4 separate regions of the Homo sapiens genome follow, and regions 2, 3 and 4 are each linked to region 1. Evidence: fine-mapped expression QTL. A gene starts in region 1. Each other region holds a variant in brackets. All regions are shown on one strand. Distances are between the middles of the regions.

Region 1 (5,537 bases):
CCGCATGCAGCCCAAGGCCTGGAAACCAGCAGTACCTGCCCTTGAGATGCTGCAGGGGCTGCCCTGGTGTGGACTCACGTGTGCTGTCTGAGATTACCTTCTCTTCTCTGTGCCCAGCAGTGTGCTGAGCAGGCAGGCCAAACCAAAATCCTTAGCCTCAGGCCCACAACTTATTGTGAGTAGGGAAATAGTAGTCTGTAGTCTCTCTTGGACCCTCTCCCTGACTCTAGAAATGTGGAGATTAGGGGTAGAATTATATATATTGGCTTGGTTTTTCTGACAAGATCTTGGCAAAGAAGAAGGGTGTTTCCCCAACTCTTGGGATCTGGAGCATGGGCCCCTCCCACTGTCATGGGCTCTGCCTGCTTCCACTCAGTTGGGCCCAGGCATGGAGTCTTCTCCCAGGCCTCCAGGGGGAGAGGAGCAGCAGCCACTTCTCACTGGTTAACAGCATCTGCACAGCCACCAGGGCACATACCTCCTTTGGCAGCCCTTGAGGGGCTGTGTTATCTCTGGGGCAGGGCTTTCCTTCCCCTGGTGGGTCAGGCCTGGTTGAGCATGGTGGCACTCACCAATGATTTCACATCTTTTGTGAGCATAAATGAGGGCCATGGTGGAGCACAGGGACACGTCTGGGTGATGCCTGATGCTTTCCAGGTCACTGATGGCATCCTGGATGTGCTCTGCAAAGACAGTCCACATAGTTATACTCTCAAGCTCCAGGACTAGAGGACATGAGACTCTGTAGCTGACCCAACAGCTCAGCACTACTACCTGCTGGACTAACTGGTCTGAAAGGTCCCCAGTGACCCAAGTTCCCTGAAGATTGGGGCTCTTTGAAAGAGTTGCTGGTAACATGGTCCAGGCTGTTAGGGGCTGGAAATCTTGGACTTGAAAGGTTCACCCTGTGAGTACTTGTGGGGATATGTGTGAGGCTGCAATTATTAGCTGCGTCAGTTCTGAAGAAGGACCTCAGGCAGGGCATTCTCAGCTACTGCTCAAGAGCCACTGATTACATTTATCCCTCCATGTCCTCAGACATTTGGCCATGGGCTATTCTGCCAGTCCTCAGCCTAGGACCACCTTCTGAATGTCAGCCCATCTGCACCTGCATGGGTCTCACTCCTCTCCCTGTACCTGTACCATACCCACCTGTCCTCACACCTACCTCTTCCCCCTCCTTTGCCTGCATTACCAGTTCTCAGCTTCCAGGCCTGGAATTACTTCAAGAATCATGCAGCTATCTCTCCAACCACTCATTTTACAGAGAGGGAACCCGAGGTGCAGAGCAGGGATAGTCAGCGCTCTGAGGTCTCAAAAGTCAACTAGATATGGATTACGTAGGCCTCTGTGGATTCCCGTGGGAATCCAGCCGCTGAGTGTGAAACTGTTTTTATGGGACCATAACTAGGATACAAGAAGGCATCCAGGTGGAGCCAGAGTGTTAGGGCCCAGCTAGTGCCTGGGGTCACAAGACCAACACTGCCAAGTCCTTACCTTCTTTGAGGACTCCATAGGCTTTAAAGAACTTCAACACAGGGTCATTGCTGAATTTTTCCAGGCCCACAGCTGCAGCCTGCTGCACATGGTGGAAGTACTTTTCCTGGCTATAGTAAATGATCCCAGCCTGTATGAAGGAAGACATAACTGCAATAGCCCAGTCCCTTCTCTGTCTCTGTTCTGTCCCAGATGGGATGAGACCTGCTCCCTTCCCTATCCCCTGCTCCTCCTCAGTTCTGCAAAGGGAAGAGAAAGAGGAAACATTCAGGCCTCATCCTGTCCTCTAACAGCCCTGGGAGCAGCTCCATGCAGTTTTCCCAGGAAAGAGTTTGGAGGTGTTTGTTTGGGGGATTACCAACAGATTCTGGTTCAACTATGATGGGGAATTCAACCAAGGCTTTGTCTTAGGAAGGGAATAAGGGGGGAAAAATGAGGACAAATAATAAGAAAAATTATACGAATTGTAGTTACAAGTTATTGTGGGCTTCATATCCACTATCCTGTGCATGGTCCTCTCAGTATCTTTCACAGCTAAGGAAGCTTAAGCCCATGGAAACTACAGCTTGACAAAGGGGCTGAGATTTTAAAGTTAAGTTTCACTTCCTCTAAGGTTTGTGGGTGCTAGGTTGGGAGCAGATGTGGTTGGACTGTAAACATCCTCATGGGCCATATGAAAGAGCCCAGACACCATCCTAAGGGTAACAGAAAGCAGAATGGTTTTAAGGCGAGGGATGTTTTCAGATGTACATTTTTGCAACAACCACTCTGGCTGCTTTTGCATGTGGGGGGTGTGTGCCGTGGTGGCAGCAGGGACTACTGATGCTGAAAAGAGCCACAGCAGAGAAACCAGATGGGAGGGAGGCTGTTGCAGGCTCTCAGGGGGGAGAGATGGTGCTGGTTCTGGGCTAGAAGATAAAAAGATAAAAAGAAAACCCAGGAGACATCAAGGAGCTGGCATTTCTTGTAGACAGGATTAGAAGATGAGTATAGGGAAGAGGTATGAGTTAAGGCTAGGAGATTAAATGGTGAAGCCATCAACTGGGGTGGGAGGCGCAGGCGAGAGTGAGCTGGGTGGAAGAAGGGATGATGACAAGAAGGGATAATGATAGTGATTGGATGAGCTGGTTTGGGGTAGCTCAAGAAACGGGGATGCTAATTTGGGGCTCAGGGTGCGCAGAAGCCACCGGAGAAGACGCCCTTGCCAGGGGGAGTGGGGCAAGAAAAGGCAGGACCGCCTGATATAACTGAGGACAGCGAAGGGTGGCAGGAGAGTAGCAGGGCAGACGGTCTCTGGGTCAGGGGCGGGGAGTCACGAGGGAGCCCTCGGACAGCGCCCGGGCCACGCACCATAAGGGAGGAGTCATTGCTGCTCATCTCGGGCCGCTCGCGGCTCCGAGTCCGGGTCTGGTGGGGCGGTGCAGAGCGGGATTCCCGAGGCAGGGTCGTGGGCACTCTATCGCGGCGGGCGGTTGAAGGCGTTACAGTCCTTGGAAACCGAGCTGCTAGCCGGTTGCTAGGAGCGTCCAGTGTCTGGAGTGGGAGGAACAAAACGCCTCACGTCACAAGGCGCAGGAATCGAGCGCCGAGAGAGCGAGTCGGTGCTACTGGCGTCGGGTCGGTCCGGGTAGGCGCAGCGGGACTGGACCTGGGTGCCGAGCGGAGCCGCTGCCATGGGCCTGGGCGTCAGCGCTGAGCAGCCCGCAGGCGGCGCCGAGGGCTTCCACCTCCACGGGGTGAGTTGCCGCCGCGGCGCCGGTGACCTTGGCGAGGCGCCCGCAACCCCGCGCCCGGGCGTCCGGTCGCCGGCTGGCTGGCGACTGCGGCGGGGTCCCGGCCCGAGTGTTTCCGCCTGGGTGGCGGGAGGTGCCCCCTGCCCGGTGGGAGCCTCCTGGGAGAGGCGGCCTCGCGGGACTCCCGGACCCTGGCTAGTCCGCGGCCGCGGTCGGGCCCAGCGCCCGCCCCAAGTGCCAGCAGTGCCGGAAGCGGAGCGTTTTCCTGGTCCGGCCGCCGGGAATGGCGCTCCTCCCGGGTGAAGAATGCACCACTACCAGTCGGGACGCACTCGTGCACTTAGCACACATTTACGCTCGCCTGCCGCGGGCCGCTCTCCGTGCTGGGCCTGGGAAGAGAGTCAGCCACGCCGAGGACAGTCCCGGGGGCCGGGGTTAACCGAGTGGACGCAGCTGCGGGGGAGCCCGTCGGCGCGCGTCCTGCCAGTCGTAGGGTCGTAAGGGCTTCCGAGGGTAGAGGACCGGTGCAAACCAGCCACGGGATAGTGGGGAGCGGGAGGGCCGGGAGAGTGCTGCAGAATCCTCGAGGAGAGCGTTTGCAGCTGGGGAGGGTCCCAGCCTTTAGATGCCGCTACATGGAGGTCTGGGCGAGCAGGCTTCCGGAGAGTGGAGACGGAGTGGGGTTCCTAGAACGGAGTGTGCTGTGAGGGTGAGGAGAGGGTCCCGCAGCCGGATGGAGATTTGTGCCTGCGGTGAGGGAAGGGCTATAATGTAGGTGAGAGGGGCTGGGGGTCTCTGACCCCGGAGCGCTGCGGGGAAGAGGCGTCCCTGCACCCCCCCTTTCCCTAGTGAAAGGCAGCTGGATGCAGAGATGAGTGGAGACAGGCAAGCTTGTCGGTTTGTGTGTTTTGAAGGTAGGGTCTGTTGCCAGCTAACCACATGAGAGGGCTAAAAGTTTCTTAACGTGAAAACCAGGCTGGCTTGGAGAACCCAGAGTTGACAGGATTTGTGCTTGGGAATGGGCTTTCTTATGGTGAGACACCAAACAGCAAGCGTGGACAGTGGAATGCATCCAGCCAGGAGCGTCTTCCAACAGGTTTGATTAAAGGCAAAGGAACTCAGGATATTGGCAAGAGGAGGGGTGGGGCGATGATGGGAGCTTCGAAGACGGGAGGGGCCTGCCTGATGGAGAGGGACAAATTGGAGAGGGACCAGGGATCAGAGGTTGTCAGTCACAAAAACAAAGTTTTGAGCTCCTACTCTGGCAGGCAGAATTCTAAGGCTCTAGAGATAAAGCAGTGAACAGAACAAACATGGTCCCTGTTCTGGAGCTGACATTTGGATGATGGTAGGGAAAGAAGGGAAATGAAAAAATACATGGTAGGTGGTAATTACCAGTGATAAAAATAAAGCAGGTTAAGGGGATACAGAATGGTGAGTGGGTGCTATTTTTGATAGAGTGGTCAGGAAGGGCCTCTTCTCAAGTCACATTCGAACAGATGCTTCTGAAGGAAGTAAAGAGTGGACAATACAGATATTTAGGGGAATAGTAGTATTCCAGGCAGAAGGACCAGCTTGTGCAGAGGCCCCGAGGTAGGTTGTGCTTGTGTGTTTGAGGAAATGCCAGGTGAGGCTGGTGTGCTTGGATGGTGTGGCCAGTGTGAGGAGGAGACCAGAGCAGACCGTGTAGGACCTTGCCTGTTGTCCTGAAGATTTAAGATTTTATTCTGAGATGTAAAACCATCAGGAGGTTTTAAATGGAGGAGTGACATGACCTACTTACCTTTAACAACACTGAAGAACAGCTGTGCTGCATTCTAGAAATATTGGCACCTCGCTGCGTGCCCAATACTTTGGAGAAGTCGCTGCCCTCAGCGAGCTTAGAGTAGTGGCAGATTCACCAGGAAACAGCTGTTAGGAGAGGGCAGTGGTTAGGGGGAGGGCTCTGGGTTGGATTTCCTGGGGTCAAATTACTGAATTATTGAGTACTTGGTCTCATTTGTCATTTGAGGTTATTAAAAAGGTTAAATGACACATAAAGCAGGTGAGGTGGTGCCATGCCCTGGCACTCAGCCAACCAGCCCTTAGTAAGTGTAAGTTGTGATCACTGTGAGTTCCATTAGGTTCCCTGATTGGGAAAAATAGGGTGGGAGCATGAGGAAAAGCAGCACTATAGGGCCTTGGGGCAGGCTGTGATGGGAGCCCCTGAGGGAGCTGGATGGCAGGCAGTGGTTTCTGCAGGGGGAGCCGTACAGTGGGCAGCAGCATAGATTATTTCAGCTGCGGAGCCATAGTGAGTAGTGATGA
Region 2 (5,706 bases), 830 kb after region 1:
AGATGTATTCCCTAAACCTTGGACTTCCCAGCCTCCAGAACTGTAAGAAATAAATTTCTTTTCTTTATAAATAACTCAGTTTCAAGCAGTCTGTTATAAGCAACAGAAAATGGACTAACACAGACACTTAAGACACAAAAAAAAATTAAAAGAATTTCATATATTTGAAAAAAAATGAAGTATTGATCACAGGGAAACCTACTTACAGCTCTTTTGCAGTTTCCTATGGCTCAATCTTCACTTGTTTGGGGGCAGGGCACTGCAATCTTATTGGTATCTGGGGCATCAGATCCTTCCTCTTTCACCAGACCTCCCTCGGGGTGTCTGCAGGTCACCTCAGTGGTTGGTCCTAGGCCCCTCATCCCCCCTAGAGTTCCCCACTCTTGAGCAGCAGCACTCTGGGGGTCAAAGGGACCAAGCAGACAGCACAGTGAGCACCCAGAAGCCATCAGTGAGACTGAAGAGCAGGGTGGGAGCACCCCTTTGTTTTGGTTTGTTTTGGTTACATAAGATCCCAGAACTCGGCTGGGCATGGTGGCTCACGCCTGTAATCCCAGCACTTTGGGAGGCTGAGGCAGACGGATCACCTGAGGTCAGGAGTTCAAGACCAGCCTGGCCAACATGGCAAAACCCTGTCTCTACTAAAAATACAAAAATTAGCCTGGCGCAGTGGCGCACACCTGTAATCCCAGTTACTCGGGAAGCTGAGGCAAGAGAATCGCTTGAACCCAGGAGGCAGAAGTTGCGGTGAGCAGAGAATTGCACCACTGCACTCCAGCCTGGGTGACAAACTGAGACTCCTTTTCAAAAAAAAAAAAAAAGATCCCAGAACTCTCTGGGTTGAGAAGAGCCCCAATAACAGCTGAGATGAATTTCCAATCAGCTCAGCAAGATGGAGGCTCATAGGCTAAAGAAACATTCTGTTGCCTGCAGATATGAGTTTACAGAACAAATATTCATACCAGCTACAAATGTTGATTGCCTTTGTTAAAAATTTAGGAGGTCATTTTTGTTTCCCTTGGTTACAGGTTGAGAAAACTAGTAAATATGAGGGTCAGATTGTTTCTAGGCAGAAAGGGGCTTGCTGTTCAATGTGCTAGAAGCCAATATGATGACACCGGGTTTTTGAGAAAAGAAAAGCTTGTAATTATAGGCCGGCCGACACGGAGACAGGAGTCCAGCTTGAATCTGTCTCCCTGGGCTGGTGCTAAGGCAGTGTTTTTATTAGAAAAGGTGTCGGGATTCTGAGATTAGCAGGTGATTAGTGGAAGGAAAGAGGAGGCCTGGAAAGTCCTCCAGCATGCGCAGTTCTCTTCATGACACCTCATAGATCACATGGGCAGGTACGGGGGGAGTGAGTATGAAACACGCAGTGGAAATTCAGGCTGTGATGTCAGCAAGCAGGTACTGCACAGACTCTAGTTGGCCACATTGGTTCCAACCTATTTTAGCCAGCTTTGTTGTCTTACAAGTGGAGGGACTTTCAGCATCTCAGCAAGTTGTTTCTTTGCTTACCTACCATCCTGCAAACTCAAGAATTTCTGTTAGTCATTGGTGTCTTTAACTGTTTGGGGCACAGTTTCGCTTTCACACACCTGGACTAAATGTTTAGGACTGATAGTCACCATTGCCGTAACCTTTGAGGAGCAAAATCAAGGAGATACACAACCAGGGTCCAGTGAAGCTGCATATCTTCTCCTTCAGAGTCCCAGAGGCCTCAGCAGCCAACCTCCCATCAGTGACTGCTAAAGGACACTTACCCATTCATCAGAGCAAACCACAGGACACTTTTAAATACACACAGAAAAAAAAAAAAATCTTTCTCCCCAACCAACCATAATCCCCCCAAAAAGGAAAGAAAAAGTCTCCAGGGACCAGGCATGGTGGCTCATGCCTGTAATCCCAATACTTTGGGAGGCCGAGGTGGGCGGATCACGAGTTCAGGAGTTTGAGACCAGCCTGGCCAACTTGGCAAAACCCCATCTCTACCAAAAATACAAAAATTAGCCAGTCTTGGCCATTCAGGTCTCTTCCTGGGAATGACAATCATTCCGTCTTAAAGGGAGCAAGTGTCCATATCTTAGAGGAGGAAACTGCCTTTAGCTGGGAAATGGCCCTTTCCCCACTTCTATCTGGTTTTCCGCACCCCTTGGCAGTTTCAGCCTGAGAGACACATTGTGCCCAGAAAGACTTGCTAGTATTCCCCAAGAGGATGCCATGAATGGGCACACAGTAGGAAGCTAAATAGAGCTTTTGTCTAGCACTTCAAAGCTGAGAATCGTGAGTGAGGAATATCCATGTGTTTGGAAGACAGGTGCTGAACACTTCCATGCTGGGTTTACAGGAAACTGGTCCAGCATCTACGCCCAACCCCGAACCAGCCATGCAGGAGAAGGTGAGCAAGCTGGGGTGCCTGTGAGAAGAGAGACTGAAACCTTCTCCCTAGTGGGAGGTTAGCTGGGGCAAGGCAGGGGCAGTGGCCAGGCAAGCTCTTTTTCTATCTACCATTTGGTGACACAATGATATATGGTGTTCTTGCAGGCTAAGGAGGTGCTGAGGAAGGCAGTCCGGCTTGAGGTCTCTTTATGGGCGCCCATCTAAGAAGGCCATCTTTTTTTTTTTTTTTTTTTTTTGAGATAGAGTCTCTTTCTGTTGCCCAGGTTGAAGTGCAGTGGTGCGATCTTGGCTCACTGCAAACTCCGCCTCCCAGGTTCAAGCGATTCTCCTGCCTCAGCCTCCCAAGTAGCTGGGATTACAGGCATGCACCACCATATAGGGCTAATTTTTGTATTTTTAGTAGAGACAGGGTTTTGCCATGCCAGCCAGGCTGGTCTCAAATTCCTGACCTCAGGTAATCCGCCCGCCTCAGCCTCCCAAAGTGCTGGGATTACAGGCATGAACCACCACGCCCAGCCAAGAAGGCCATCTTGGTTGGGTCAGGGGCTGCCAGCTGTAGGACAGGTTGTAGGAGCAATGCTGGGTGGGGCTGGAGAAGGGTCCCAAGAGGAGCTGGGAGTGCATTGGGAGCATATTG[C/T]TCATTCTAAGGAACAATACCAAGGCCTGAGAAGATCTCTGAGAAGCCCAAGAAGATGGCCCGTGGAAAAGGCAGCTTTCAGAAGCCTGACAAAACACACCAACTGGCATTAGCCAATGTGCACCAGAAAGAACTGCAACCAGCAGCAGCTCGGTGAAAAGACCTCTACCCTTTCCCTCACCCTGCATGGGCCCTGGAAGGTCCAGAAGCAGCTGAGCATGAGCAGGAGGAGGCGGGGTGAGGCGGGGAGCAGAACAAACCTCCTTTCCTTCCCCAAGCTGGTCCCTGAGCCACACATAGGTTAGGCATGAGCTGAGTGTAGGGCGGGGGTTGGGCCATCTTTGAAGTGAACACAAGGTGGAAGTTTTGATTTAGGCTGAACTGAATCTTCTCTCTGTATGACCCAGTGACCTATGGGGCCATACGTTAGCCAGAGGAATCTGGTCCATCCGCTAGAAGGAATCATAACCTTCCTTTTATCCACAGCATTTTCATCCACCTGCCTGGGTAGAGTCCACAACTTCACATTTGTTTCCTCTCCCCTCCTGTTCCCACAAATTGGAAAGGGCTTACCTTGTGTTCTGTTCTGAACATCACTGTGTTTTGAGGGCAGGGGACTCCAGATTGAGGAGATCAAGAGAGCCATACCCCATGAAGATTGTTAGAGGACAAGTTAATTCCAAGACATACCCAAGATCCTAACCCAGACAGAGTATTGGGGGCAGGGCTCTGGAGATGAGAAAGGTGAAGGAGGCCGGGAGGTCCTGTCTCAGATGGTGGTTCCCAGTCTGGGATTGGACTCGGCAGGAGGTGACAGCCATGGGCCAGATTGTGGTGTCCTGCCTCCATAAGCAAGGCTGGTCTTGCCCTGTGTCCCTGTGGGTCCTGGCCATATCCAAGGAGGTGTTTAGGCAGCTCCCTGCTGCTGATGGTCCAGCTCTTAGAGACCTCAATCAGAAGTATGTGCTGCTCACAAAGGCCACTCCCGGGCTGGAAGTTCTTCCCTTGGCCTCTGTTTCCTTCTCTGAGGGCACTGATTTGGGGGACCTAGAGGGAGCAGAAGGCTGTCATTGGCTGCCCAGGAATTGGTCCCATGACAGTGTCCTCACCACCTCCCTCCTCAAAGTAAGGGGAATCTGAACTAAAGCCAGCCAGATGTCTGTGGTTCTGGAGGACCCCATATTAGCCTCTAGGCAACAGTGGACGAGTGATGAGGTGGAGGCCTGGGCATATAGAGTGCGTGGCCAATGTGAGACCCAAGTCGTGGTTTCAGTGCAAGCAAGCAGCTCACCGTGGGTGAGGCCCCAGCTCCAGGTCCTGGAGGGTGTCTTTCAGGCCCTGGCCATGCGTCTCTGGCAGCAGGGTGCACAGCAGGCCGGCCACGATGGGGAGGCTGCCGTAGATGAGCATGGGGAGGGCAGCGTGGTACTCTCCCAGCAGGATCACAAGTGGTGTGAGGATGCCCCCGATCCGTGAGAAGATGCCCACCAGCCCCATGCCTGTCTGCCTGGGGGAAGACCAGGGCAAGCTAAGTAGACCTGGGCCCAACTCTGGGCCTCAGCTTCACCCTAGTATATTTCCTCGGGAGAGTCCAGACCTCAAAGGTCTGCAGGGTCTCCAGCCTCACCCAGCCCAGCCAGCGTTCCTGCTCTCTGCTCCTGCCTCCAACCCTGCTCCCTGCCTGCTACACCCCTGCTCGCCTGTCAAGTCTCAGGTCAGAGGCTGCACATCCTTACCACTCTTCCACCCCAAGTGCTCCTTCTCTGTGGCCATTCATTCTTAGATGTGTCCCATATTCCTGTCCTGACCGCCAGGGCATGGCCTACTTGCCTGTCTGTCCTCCACCATTCTGGGGACAACTTGAGGGCTTGGGCTAGATTTCTAGTTGTCCTGGACCCTGCCCAGCACTGCTGCCCCAGAGCCAGCCCTGTCAGCTATTTGTGGAATGGGGTGAGGGCCGAGGAGGGACAGCCAAATCAGCATCTCAGTAGCAGAGGAGCAGGAGTCACACTGCAGCTCTTACCGGAGGATGGTGGGGAAAAGCTCGGCAGAGTACACATAGGAGATGGTAAAGGCAGCAGCTGTGGCCATCTTCCCCACCACAGCCAGCATGGTGACCACCACGGGCAGATCTGGCAGAGGGTAGACAGCCCCATCACCTGGGCCCTGACGCCGGTCCCATCCACTGGAACTCCCCACCCCTTCTGTACCCAAACCCCCGGGAAGCCTTTACTCCTGGAAGCAGAACAATGGCCACTGGTCTAGCCCCTGGCAGCCGGTGGGTGAGGGGGCATGCGGGTGAGGGATAGCCAGCCCTGATACCTGCTGGGATGAAGATGATGATGATACACATCAGGCCACCCAAGACCAAGGTCCCCAACTGGCTCCACTTGCGGCCAAACCTCTGCATCATGAAGATGCTGGAACAGCGGGCAGGCACCTCAACAGCTCCAAAGATGAGCTGCGTCAGATAGACGTCCAGGCCGAAGTCCCCCACTTGGAGGCTCAGGCCGTAGTACCCCAGACTGTCCACAAACCTACAAGGTAATGAAGGGTTCCTGTCACTGCTGGGTGACGAGACACCACCCAGAGGGAGAGCCTGCCTTGGTCAGCAGTCACAGCAGGGGACACTGGCACAACCAGGGAGAGACCATCCCAGCCAAACAGCCACC
Region 3 (5,539 bases), 310 kb before region 1:
AGGGAGACGGTTAGGCCTCCGGATAACTGCAGGCAGGCCTGCTTCCACAAGAGGTGGAGGAGTAGAGTCTTCTCTAAACTCCCCTGGGGAAAGGGAGACTCCCTTTCCCGGTCTGCTAAGTAGCGGGTGTTTTTCCTTGACACTGAGGCTACCACTAGACTACAGTTCACTTGGCAACAGGAGTCTTCCCAGACGCTGGCGTTACCGCTAGACCAAGGAGCCCTCTGGTGGCCCTGTCTGGGCATAACAGAAGGCTCGCACTCTTGTCTTCTGGTCACGTCTCACTATGTCCCCTCAGCTCCTATCTCTGTACGGCCTGGTTTTTCCTAGGTTATGATTATAGAGCGAGGATTATTATAATATTGGAATAAAGAGTAATTGCTACAAACTAATGATTAATGATATTCATATATAATCATATCTAAGATCTATATCTGGTATAACTATTCTTATTTTATATTTTATTATACTGGAACAGCTCACATCCTTGGTCTCTTGCCTTGGCACCTGGGTGGCTTGCTGCCCACAGGTTATGGCTATGTTTTTGTAGGATTTTATATGTGATTGCGAAACCATTTGACGTTATCTGGTGAAACTAGAGTTTAAAACCGACAGGGGAAAACTTTGCACAAGGATCTATCAAAAATGTTCCAAATGGTGGGCCACAGTGGCTCATGCCTATAGTCCCAGGCTGAAACAGAAAGGTCACTTGAGCTCAGGAGTTTGAGACCAGCCTGGGCAATATAGTGAACCCTCCTCTCTACAAAAAAAAAATTTTTTAATTGGCTGAGCATGGTGACACGCACCTGTAATCCCAGCTACTTGAAAGACTGAGGTGGGAGGATCGTTTGAGCCCAGTAGGTAAAGGCTGCAGAGAGCCATGATCACACCACTGCACTCCAGCCTGGGCAACAGAGACTCTGTCTCAAAAAAGAAAACAAAAAGCAGAGACAATATTGAGGGAAAGAAGCAGATCACACAGAAGACGTGCTAAGATTCCATTTATGGGAAGCTCAAAAACAGGAAAATTAAATAATTCATGATTAAAAGCACAAACGTAAGTGGGGAAACAATAAAGTCAACCAGTTTATCACAGGAGCAGGAGCTCTCTGACCTGAGAGGAGCAGGGAGGGACACACAGATGCTTTCTCTGGTCCCGGCACTTTTCCCTTTCATAACCTGCATCACAGTTGCAGAGGCTTTAACTTGATTCTTACTCTTTAAGAATGCATGGATATGTCTCTTAAACTATCTGCATGTATGATCCATTTTACATAAAAATTATTTTTAAAGTAAGTACTAAGGAAAGACAATGCAATGCATACGAGCAGTATTCACTACATGCCAAACCCAGACTAATTGCTGTGCAGGATGATCTCAATGAATCACAGCAGCCCACAATCATCCCATTTGATGGTGAGGCCACTTGGGCTAGAGACATAGTCCCTTGCCCAGAACCACACACTAGGAGTGGCCCAAGCAGGGCTGTCATCACCCCAGTATGTCCAATTCTGCAGCCCACACTATCCACCTCACTATGCAGCCCATCATCTCAATGGTGACAGTGGGCCAGTCCCTTCACAGGACAACTGGTTATGCAAAGGTGTCCTTGGTGCTGGGCCATGGCGCAGACCAGACCCAGTCCCAACTACACCAACTAGCACACCAGGAGACCACACCCAAGCTGACCTCAGGGAGTGCAGTGCATTCTCAAAACACTATGTGAAGCTGTTGTCTTTGACCAAGCAGGGAACTTGATCAAACACCCAAGTTGAGAGCAGGTGATGTGGCCACCCGTTAATCATGCTGATGTGCTCCTGAACAACAAGCAAGAGTGGGCACCTTGAATCCTGTTGGGAGCTTCAGGTTTGCCAAATGAAACTTACCTCTCCCACTTTTTTTGAATATTAACATTAAGTCTCTTGATTTATCCTTTTTTTTTTTTTTTTTTTGAGTCAGTTTTGCTCTGTTGCCTAGGCTGGAGTGTGGTGGCACTCACAACTCACTGCTGCCTCCAACTCCTGGGCCCAAGTGATCCTCCTGCCTCAGGCCCCCAAGTAGCTGGGAACCAGGTGCACACCACCACACCCAGCTAATTTTTAAAATTTTTTGTAGACATGGGGTCTTGCTATGTTGCCCAGTCTGGTCTTAAACTCCAGGCCTCAAGTGATCCTCTTACCTCAGCCTCCCAAAGTGCTGGGATTACAAACATGAGCTACTGCACTCAGCCTCCGATTTATTGATTGATTGATTTTTTTGAGACAGTTTTGCTCTGTTGCCCAGGCTGGAGTGCAATGGCAGGATCTCGGCTCACTGCAAACTCCACCTCCCAGATTTAAGCGATTCTCCTGCCTCAGCTTCCTGAGTAGCTGGGATTACAGGCACACACCACCAGGCCTGGCTAATTTTTTGTATTTTTAGTAGAGATGGGGTTTCTCCATTTTGGCCAGGTTGGTCTCAAACTCCTGTCCTCAGGTGACCCGCCCACCTCGGTCTCCCAAAGTGCTGAGATTACAGGCATGAGCCACCTGGCCCTCAGATTTATTCTTAACTTTTTCTTTTCACTCAGTACTTACTAGCATTTACCAAGTGCCAGCTTTTGTGATAGGCTGATTCCAATGAGGATGCTCAGATTTGCCCTCATACTAGGAATGTACTAGAAAAAATGTGTTTATTGCACACAGTCCTAAGAAAGGAGTCCCTAAGCTACTTAGGAAAGTAGAGGAAAACTAGAGTTCTGTGTGGGATTCAGTTTCTATTAAGCATAGAAGACAAACTGCCCAAAAGTGTATGAAGAGCTTGAAGTTGTGAACAAGTAAAATATTTAGAGCAAGCTACATTTGTAAGATCAGGCTGAACAAGGAAATTGAATAACTTACTGAGAGAAATGCAATTCCTGTGTAGAAGGAAATGGAGATGTGCCAGGGCAAGAAGGGAGGCGGCTCACAGGGCCAAAGCAAGAGCAGTGCCTAGCAGTGAAGGAGGCAACGGCTTCTCCCTCACCTTAAAAATGGCCTCATGCTAGGAATTGAGTCAGGAAGACTCAATTCTGCAAACACCACTGGGGGTAAGTTACTAGTAGCAGGCTGCTGAACACCCAGGGGGCACAGATTGTCACTGATTCAGCAGTGCTTATGAGCTGCCCTACATCAGGTGGGCACCACCAGGCAAGAGAAAACTGTTTGAACTGGCTAGTTTAAGATGGCTATTCCAGATGGTGACAGCTTGGGGACACTGACTCTGTGGCCATGGGCAGCTGCTGGGTCCCATGAGAGCATGGTGATCCCAAACCTGAGCCAGAATCCACTAGCAGTTGGTGATATGGTACAGGGCCAGGGGAGTGGAGTTGGGGAGAGGATCCTATTTTCAGATATACAAGGTTATAAAAAGGTTAAGGCCTGTCAGGGAAGGCTAACCCCAGCTGAGTGGGTCTGAGAGAAATCCCCTCTAGTATTTGCTGGCTTCCACTTAGCTGAACATGAATGAACCCTGCCAAGGGAGACTACCTCCTCCCTAACCTCAGAATC[T/C]AGAAAAAGAGACTTTCTGGAACTGCTTTGAGAATGCTACCAAGGTCTCCTGATTGGAGGTGCTTGGCACTAGGACACAAGTCTATGGAGAGGCTGGGTTTGCATGGGACCCCAGTAAGATGGGGTAATCCTGGAGGTTGCTGGATAGTCACAACGGATGTTTTCCACAGTATCTTCAAGTGTCCAGAAATGCCAAGGTTCTCTGTTCGCTGAACAGACTCCACCCAGAACCCGCTCATAAATGAGCTTAGTATACCTTACTCCAGGCTCACACCACCTCGCAATGCTTCTCCAACTCCCCTGTTGACCAGTAGCCTTCTGGTAAACTGTCCCTGCTTCCCACCATCCTGATTCCAGCAATCTCTACCAGTGTTGCTAACCACTTGCAACTTCAGGATCCATAAATCTCACTGAATGCCATTCAACTTGGAGACATTATAGGGCAGATTTTCCCAGCCTCGCTTACAGCCATAAGCAGGCTTCCCATGAAGACAATGCTTGAGGCTGCAGTGTTCCCATTGCCTCAGCACCACCGGAAGGAGCCCTAGGAATGTGGTCACATGTACATGTATTTTGTAAATTTTCCAAGAGAATGTATGAATCCATGTAAATCAGTTCAGGCCATCTCAAAATCTGCATTCAATCCAATCTATGGAAATGTCTCTATAATCTTTTTGAGACAGGGCCTCACTTCGTCACCCAGGCTAGAGTATACAGGGGCTCAATCACAGCTCACTGCAGCCTCCAACTCCTGGCCTCAGGTGATTCTCCCACCTCAGTCTCCTGTGTAGCTGAGGTACTACAGGAGTATGCCATCACACCCTGCCAATTTTTTGTATCTTTTGGAGAGAGATGGGGTTTTACCACATTGCCCAGGCTGGTCCTGAACTCCTGAGCTCAAGCAATCGCTTTGCCTCTGCCTCCCAAAGTGCTGGGATCATGGGTGAGCCAACATGACAGCCACGAGTATTTTTTTAATAGGCAATGAAAATCTTGAAATCCGTTTAGGATGAAGCCACCAGCATTAATACATAAAAAACAAATATGGTCAGGCTCAGGCCTGTAATCCCAGCATTTTGGGGCGGGTCACATGAGGCCAGGAGTTGGAGACCAGCCTGGCAGAACCATCTCTACTACAAATACAAAAATTAGCTAGGTGTGGCAGTGCACACCTGAAATCCCAGCTACGAAGGAGCCTGAGGCACAAGAATCGCTTGAACCCAGGAGGCAGAGGTTGCAGTGAACTGAGATCACGCCACTGTACTCCAGCCTGGGCAACAGGGAAAGACTGTCTCCCCAACCCCCTCCCCGGCAAAGACAAATATGGAGAACATCACATTTTTAAATACATACATACCTCTCCTCTCCCAGAACCTGTAGGCAAGCTGACAAGAGGGGCAATTAATGTCTCTCAATGTGGGGAAGGACCATCGCCTCTCCAGGGCTTCCAGGAATAGTTAACCTAAGTGACAGGAAGACTCTCAAAAATAAAAACCTAAGCTCTATAGAACTTACCTACGCAAATGGTAATAAAAGCAAGATCATCAGGGCCTCGGAAAAGTATTCCTGAGGTTACCAACTAAGTATGTGTAACCACTTACATCTATTTTCACAGCACACATGTTCTCCACACAGGAAGGAAGCTCAGGGAAATTCTGAAGTGAAAAGCAATATACACTATCTACAGTGGGCTTTAGAAGTACAACTCATGTCGAGACATGTATTTATTATTATGCTTTGATATGCAATCCCAGGTATTCTGATCTGGAGTAAAAAGCAAACTAAATGAAGACAACTTTTAGAAACTGATGTTTATTTTCCATCAACCATTTTTCCATGCTGCTTAAGAGCCTATGCAAGAACAGCTTAAGACCAGTCAGTGGTTGCTCCTACCCATTCAGTGGCCTGAGCAGTGGGAGCTGCAGACCAGTCTTCCGTGGCAGGCTGAGCGCTCCAGTCTTCTGTTAAGAGAATACCAAAAAAAGCCATCAGCTCTGTCCTCAATGTAGTAT
Region 4 (5,706 bases), 120 kb after region 1:
AAGTCTTGGATCTCAGAGTGTCTTGGGGAGATTACTACTTTCCTCAATACTTGATCCACATTCCTTGAGGAGTCCCTAAGAAGGTTCAGGCACTGAGAGAGAGACAGCCCTGTCCCTGTGGAAGAAGCTGTAAGCTAGAAATATGGGCCCCAGACATGCTTGTGCCATTAGCCAGCCTTGCAAGATGAGTGAATCCTGTAAAGGACAGGACAGGTGTGTGTGTGTGTGTGTGTGTGTGTGTGTGTGTGTGTGAGAGAGAGAGAGAGAGAGAGAGAGAAAGGCACTGGGAGGGAGAGAAAGGGAGGAAGAAGAAAGAGGAGGGAATAGGGGAGAAAGGAGCGATGAAAAGAGGACAGGACAGGACAGGAAAGAGGAGAGATGGATGAATGCCTGTGATGTTAATTTTCCCATCCTCCCTTCCAAAGATACTCAGCTTCTGTCTTTTACTGCGCATTAGTCACTATGTACTGTGTTTGGGGTGGTTTCACATTAAACACTTGTGTGTGTGTGGTAGGCAGAGCCTTGTGTTTCTCAATGGGATGTGTCTCTACTGGTCTTGCTGTAGTTGTCCAGGTGCGGAAAGAAACGGGTAGGGGTACAAAAATGCAGGGGACTGAATTCCACCTTGACCTGTCAAGGGGAAAGTGGTCTCACAGCTGGAAAATGACATGTGGCTCTATAGATCCTTGCTCCAAGAGACTCAGTACAAACCTCAAACACAAAGCTGTGCTCTGCATGGCCAGGCTGCAAAAATCGCAGGGTTAATTGCAGGACTTCCACTTGGTTGTATCAGTATTGTATGGATCTGCCCCATATTTCAATGCCTCCTTGTCCTTTGTTTGTTCCTCTCCAACATGGTTGATCTCTGGCTCATTCCCCAACTCTACTCCCACTCAATACAACAACAACAACAACAACACACACACACAGAGAGAGAGAGAGAAGGAGGGAGGGAGAGATACTTGCATCTTAAACCTGATTAGCAGCCTGGATTGATTTCTTTTTACATCTTCAGTTTCGGGGTTCCCTCTTCTTTCTTGTGGTCACCTCACTGCATCACCGTTCATAAAGCCTGGTGGGCCACTCAGTATGTAAGGCAGAAGCAGGGTCTGTCCAGCTCAGCTCACACTTCAATGGGGAACACCCAGCTCCACTGAAGTCTCCATTCCATGTGTCTGGAATCATTCCCTTTGATCCATTTGTATCTCTCTGAAACTGATCATTCCACTCCTATTCCTGCATATTCTTCAGTTCCTCTTTATTAGACTGGCCTCCCTGACGCATCTGCTGGCTCTGTCGGCACTTCCTTCTGGCAGCAGTGTGGATGGTGTGGTGACGGTCCATTGAAATGGCCTCTAGTGATTCTCAGCTCCTAGTATTCATGCCCATGTGTAGTCTCCTCCCACAATGAAGGCAGCTGATCTGTATAACTAACAGGATATTGTGCAAATCAAAAAGTGTGACTTCCAAAGCTAGACATTGTGGCTTTTGCCTTACTTTCTTACATCACTTGTATAGGACACTCAAACAGACTGTGGAAAGGTCCCGGTAGGGAGAAATGGCAGTTTCCCACCAATGGCCAGTACAACCTTGCCTCATGAGTGAGCCACCTGCAAAGCAGACCCTTTAGTCCCAACCAAGACCAACTAGCTAACATCTTGACTGCAACCTCAGGAGAGATCATGAGCTGGAGGAACCCAGCTAATCCATTCTGGAATTCATGACCCATAGAAACTGTGAGATGGTAAACACTTATGGCTATTTTAAGCCACTAAGTTTTGAGGTCATTTCTTACACAGCAGTAGATGACTAATACTTTAAACAACATGTCTCTTCTAGTTTTCACCATCCCAGCAAATGGCAAATGCATTTATGCTGTTGTTCAGTCCAAAATCCAAGACTCAGCCTTGATTATACTCTTCCCCTCACAATCCACATCAGCAAATTATGTAAGACAGCTTTTTCTTGAAATGGTTTCACAAATCTATCTGCCTTTCTCCATCTTCACTGCCATAGCTCACACCCAAGCCATGGTCACCTCCAGCCTGCACTCCTGCAACAGTGTCCCCACTGATCTTTTCATTTTTACACCTGTCCCTAACAGTTGATTCTTAAGACAGCCAGCAGGCCGGGTGCGGTGGCTCACGCCTGTAATCCCAGCACTTTGGGAGGCCGAGATGGGTGGATCACGAGGTCAGGAGATCGAGACCATCCTGGCTAACACGGTGAAACCCCGTCTCTACTAAAAATACAAAAAAAAATTAGCCGGGCGTAGTGGCGGGTGCCTGTAGTCCCAGCTACTCGGGAGGCTAAGGCAGGAGAATGGCATAAACCCGGGAGGCAGAGCTTGCAGTGAGCTGAGACTGCGCCACTGCACTCCAGCCTGGGCAACAGAGCAAGACTCTGTCTCAAAAAAAAAAAAAAAAAGACAGCCAGCCAGAAAGACATTTTTTTAAAAAATCCGAATATGTCATCCTCTGTTTAAGCCCTCCTGTGGCTTTCATTGTATCACAAAACTGAAATAGTCTGCTGCAGCCTAGTGACCATACATAATCCAGCCCCTGCCTACATCTCTGCCTCATCTCCTACTATGCTTGCTCATTCACTCAACTCTAGTCACACTGGCCTCCTCACTGCCCTTGAATGTGTTTCTGAGTCAAGGTCTTTGCATTTGCTCTTATTTTCTTGGAATGTTCCCTCCCCCAGACTTTCGCGTGCCTTCATTGAAAGCTCAACACGAATTTCAGCCAGGCACAGTGGCTCACGCCTGTAATCCCAGCACGTTGGGAGGCCAAGGTGGGCGGATCACCTGAGGGCAGGAGTTTGAGACCAGCCTGGCCAACATGGTGAAACCCCGTCTCTACTAAAAATACAAAAATTAGCCGGGCATGGTGGCAGGTACCTGTAATCCCAGCTACTTGGGAGGCTGAGGCTGGAGAATTGTTTGAACCTGAGAAGCAGAGGTTGTAGTGAGCCAAGATCATGACATTGCACTCCAGCCTGGGGGACAGGAGTGTGGCTTTGTCTCAAAAAAAAAAAAGCTCAGCACAAATTTCACCTCCTCAGAAAGGCTTTCCTTGACAATTCAATATCAATATCTCCCTTTTACCATCTACCCCCTTGTCCTCACCACTAAGGTGCCATATTGGATTTAGGGTTCTTGGGTTGCAAACAACAGAAACCAGCTCTTTCTTATTTAAACTAAAATAACAATTATGGGAAGGTAGGGGGAGCTCTTTAGATTGAATGCAATGTTGAAGAGCCAGAAGGAGGCAGATACTAGCAGCTCTGAACATGTTGGTCTCCAGATGAATAGGGCACCTTCCTCAGTGGAGGCACCCATTGAAGAATGAGTACATTCCTAGAGAATGTGGTCTAAGAGGATTATGAGTGAAAAGGACCTGATGGTCATGGAGCAAGACTGCTCTGGGATTCCTCCTTTCCTGGTGGTTGCAGAGAAGGAACAGTGGGAAAGAGGGAGGCTGTAGAAGGATGACTGGTGT[G/A]GAAACTTTCCCAAAGCAATGGGACTAAAAAGATTTAGAAATGTGATCAGCAGGACTTCATTTTACCCTGTTCTCCTGGGAACAAATCAATGAGGTGATCATTATCTTCACCAGAGGCCCATTTAGAAATTGAACATTTTTAAAAGCACACAGAACAGAAGGATTTGTAATGTGTAAGTTTATCTCTAAGTAATTTCTCTCTCTAACTTCCTGGTGGATGAAACCCAACACAAGTTAGCTTAAGCAAAAAAGGTCTTTGTGTTTTTTGTTTTTTAAATAGAGATGGATAGTTCTTTCGTAAAACCATAGGACTGTCATGATGGTCAAAGGACTAGAACCAGAAACTTAAGAGTCATTAGCAACTCAAAGAGATTCTTTCTTTTTTGGATTTTCTTTCAAGCTCCCTTATGGGGTAGAGGTTGTCATTAACTTATAGATGAGGAAACTGAGACGCAGAGGTTAAGTAACTTGCCTTAGGGTCACACTTGGCTTTACCTTAATGATAGGAGGGTCCTTGTTTGTCTTGAGGGTTTCAGAATTTCCTTGTTCATTTCTCTATTACTTTCTTTCCCCATTCAAGTGAGACTCAAGTTGCTGACACAGGGGAGGTCAGGCCACAGAGGACCCAGTGTCTATTGAAACTCTATTTTATAGGGCACAGTGAGCACCCTTCCTCAGCTCCCAAAGCCTGTTCTTTCTAGAAGCCTTAACTTAACTAGGGGAGTTCAAAGTCATGCACCTTTTGCCTAGGTCTGAATATTGAAGAATGGCCTGACCACTCTGGTGAAGGTGACATGGAGCAAAAAACATCAAAGCTCAGGGGTGAAGAGGAATCATGAAGGCCATCTAATGCAGGGGCCACAAACCCACACGCAGCAGGAACCACTCAGGTACTATAAAGGAAATAAGTAGCACAGTAAGAAGAGTGGTGAGGTCTGTGGCTAATGGTCTCATCTAAAACAGCCTTCCCTATTCAGCTCTGGCTTCTTGCTGACATTTTGGACTCATACTCAACATTGTTAGATTTTCTGAGTTTTCAAGAGAAGCCAGAAGTTTTCCCCGCTACTTTGTATTGTTGTGAAAATTAAATGAGATAACTCACATAAGTTGATTGGAAGATGTGTCTGGCATATGGGGTAAGCTTTCAGTAAGTGTTCATGGCTATAATAACATTTCGCAGATGTGGAAACCAAGGCCCAAAATGGTCTCCCCCAAGATCACATTTATTGGAAGATGTTACATGACAGCCCAGGATCCTGACCCTGGGTCCACAGTTCTTCCTTCCTGGTTTTCCTTTCCTGACCCCCACCCCATCCTTGAGCCATCACCATTGTCACTGTGTAGCATGACACATTTTAACTAACTATATGCTGCTTCACCACTGTATCTTTCATATATTATGTCTGCTGATTCCCTACTTTCAGAGAAATTTTCCTCCCTTAGTAAATGAAACCTATGTCAAAGCTTGTTCCAGTAAAACAATCCACTGGGTTGTTCGTATAAAAGCAATAGCTCTGAAGCAGCTCCCCACCCTGCCTTATTAGCTCGGCAGGGCTGTATTACATAATCTCAGACCTTTCCATTTAAGTCAGGGGCTCACCCACTGTTTACCCAGGGCCCATTAAACCATTAAGAAAAAAGGATGCCTTAGTGGGCCAGGAAGACTTGTGCACTTTGTTGAGAATGAAGCTAATTTCCTCTTGCTCTGTGGAAACAAATGCGCTTTACACCCAGTAAAAGTTCCAGGAATTCTGCATCCTGTAGTGGTCCAGATGTGGTCCCACAGAGTAGGCAGCAGGGACTGTCATTTCCCCCTTAGTACTCCCAGTTCCAAACAGGCCAGGGTTGGCCCAAGTTGGTACTTTCATCTTTTGCTCAATCCCACAGTTCTAAGTTAATGCCATCTCCTTTTGCACTACGTGTCAGCTTCATTCGGCTCACTGGAACACCTGAGGCTGGATGGGGCCACACTTGTCCCTTGTGGTTTTGTTTGTCTGTTTTTGTTTTTTTCTTTTTGCTTTTTGTTTTGTTTTTTTTTTTTGAGACAGAGTCTCACTCTGTTGCTCAGGCTGGAGCACAGTGGCATGACCTTGGGATCTTGGCTCACTGCAACCTCTGCCTCCTGGGTTCAAGTGATTCTCATGTCTCAGTCTCCTGAGTAGCTGGGACTACAGGTGCCTGCCACCATGCCCGGCTAATTTTT

Which allele goes with the higher level. Alleles are on the strand shown, and positions count from the first base shown. SD is a standard deviation of normalised expression in the study named. Not every link is listed here.
In carriers of allele C in region 3, the expression in neutrophils of the gene that starts at base 3,085 in region 1 tends to be lower than with T alone (large effect, 1.6 SD a copy in BLUEPRINT).

What was found. PIP is the estimated chance that this variant, and not a neighbour inherited with it, causes the effect. A credible set is the group of variants that fine-mapping cannot tell apart.
Region 2: its variant is the best candidate, but not a certain one, in a credible set for the expression of GORASP1 in liver (GTEx, PIP 0.88).
Region 3: its variant is the best candidate, but not a certain one, in a credible set for the expression of GORASP1 in neutrophils (BLUEPRINT, PIP 0.72).
Region 4: its variant is the best candidate, but not a certain one, in a credible set for the expression of GORASP1 in tibial nerve (GTEx, PIP 0.54).

The regions. Positions count from the first base shown.
Region 1 is chr3:39,105,175-39,110,711 of GRCh38, reverse strand. GORASP1 (golgi reassembly stacking protein 1) reads left to right here and starts at 3,085. Exons shown (of 9, transcript NM_031899.4): 1 at 3,085-3,233. The coding sequence starts at 3,171. It overlaps TTC21A (tetratricopeptide repeat domain 21A), which reads right to left and starts at 3,032. Exons shown (of 29, transcript NM_001366900.1): 1 at 2,848-3,032; 2 at 1,498-1,627; 3 at 573-683. The coding sequence starts at 2,874. RefSeq lists a silencer at 3,136-3,455.
Region 2 is chr3:38,275,747-38,281,452 of GRCh38, reverse strand. It overlaps SLC22A13 (solute carrier family 22 member 13), which reads right to left. Exons shown (of 10, transcript NM_004256.4): 7 at 5,357-5,571; 8 at 5,058-5,166; 9 at 4,326-4,541; 10 at 2,696-4,081. The coding sequence ends at 3,988. It also overlaps a transcript of SLC22A14 not described here. Among named protein-coding and RNA genes, the nearest start is that of SLC22A14, 3.7 kb to the left of the region's middle. The variant C/T (reference allele first, on the strand shown) is at 3,035.
Region 3 is chr3:39,412,223-39,417,761 of GRCh38, reverse strand. RPSA (ribosomal protein SA) reads right to left here. Exons shown (of 7, transcript NM_002295.6): 7 at 5,220-5,488. The coding sequence ends at 5,394. Among named protein-coding and RNA genes, the nearest start is that of SNORA62, 3.9 kb to the right of the region's middle. The variant T/C (reference allele first, on the strand shown) is at 3,528.
Region 4 is chr3:38,981,850-38,987,555 of GRCh38, reverse strand. The region is part of intron 2 of SCN11A (sodium voltage-gated channel alpha subunit 11); the gene reads left to right. Among named protein-coding and RNA genes, the nearest start is that of SCN11A, 67 kb to the left of the region's middle. The variant G/A (reference allele first, on the strand shown) is at 3,504.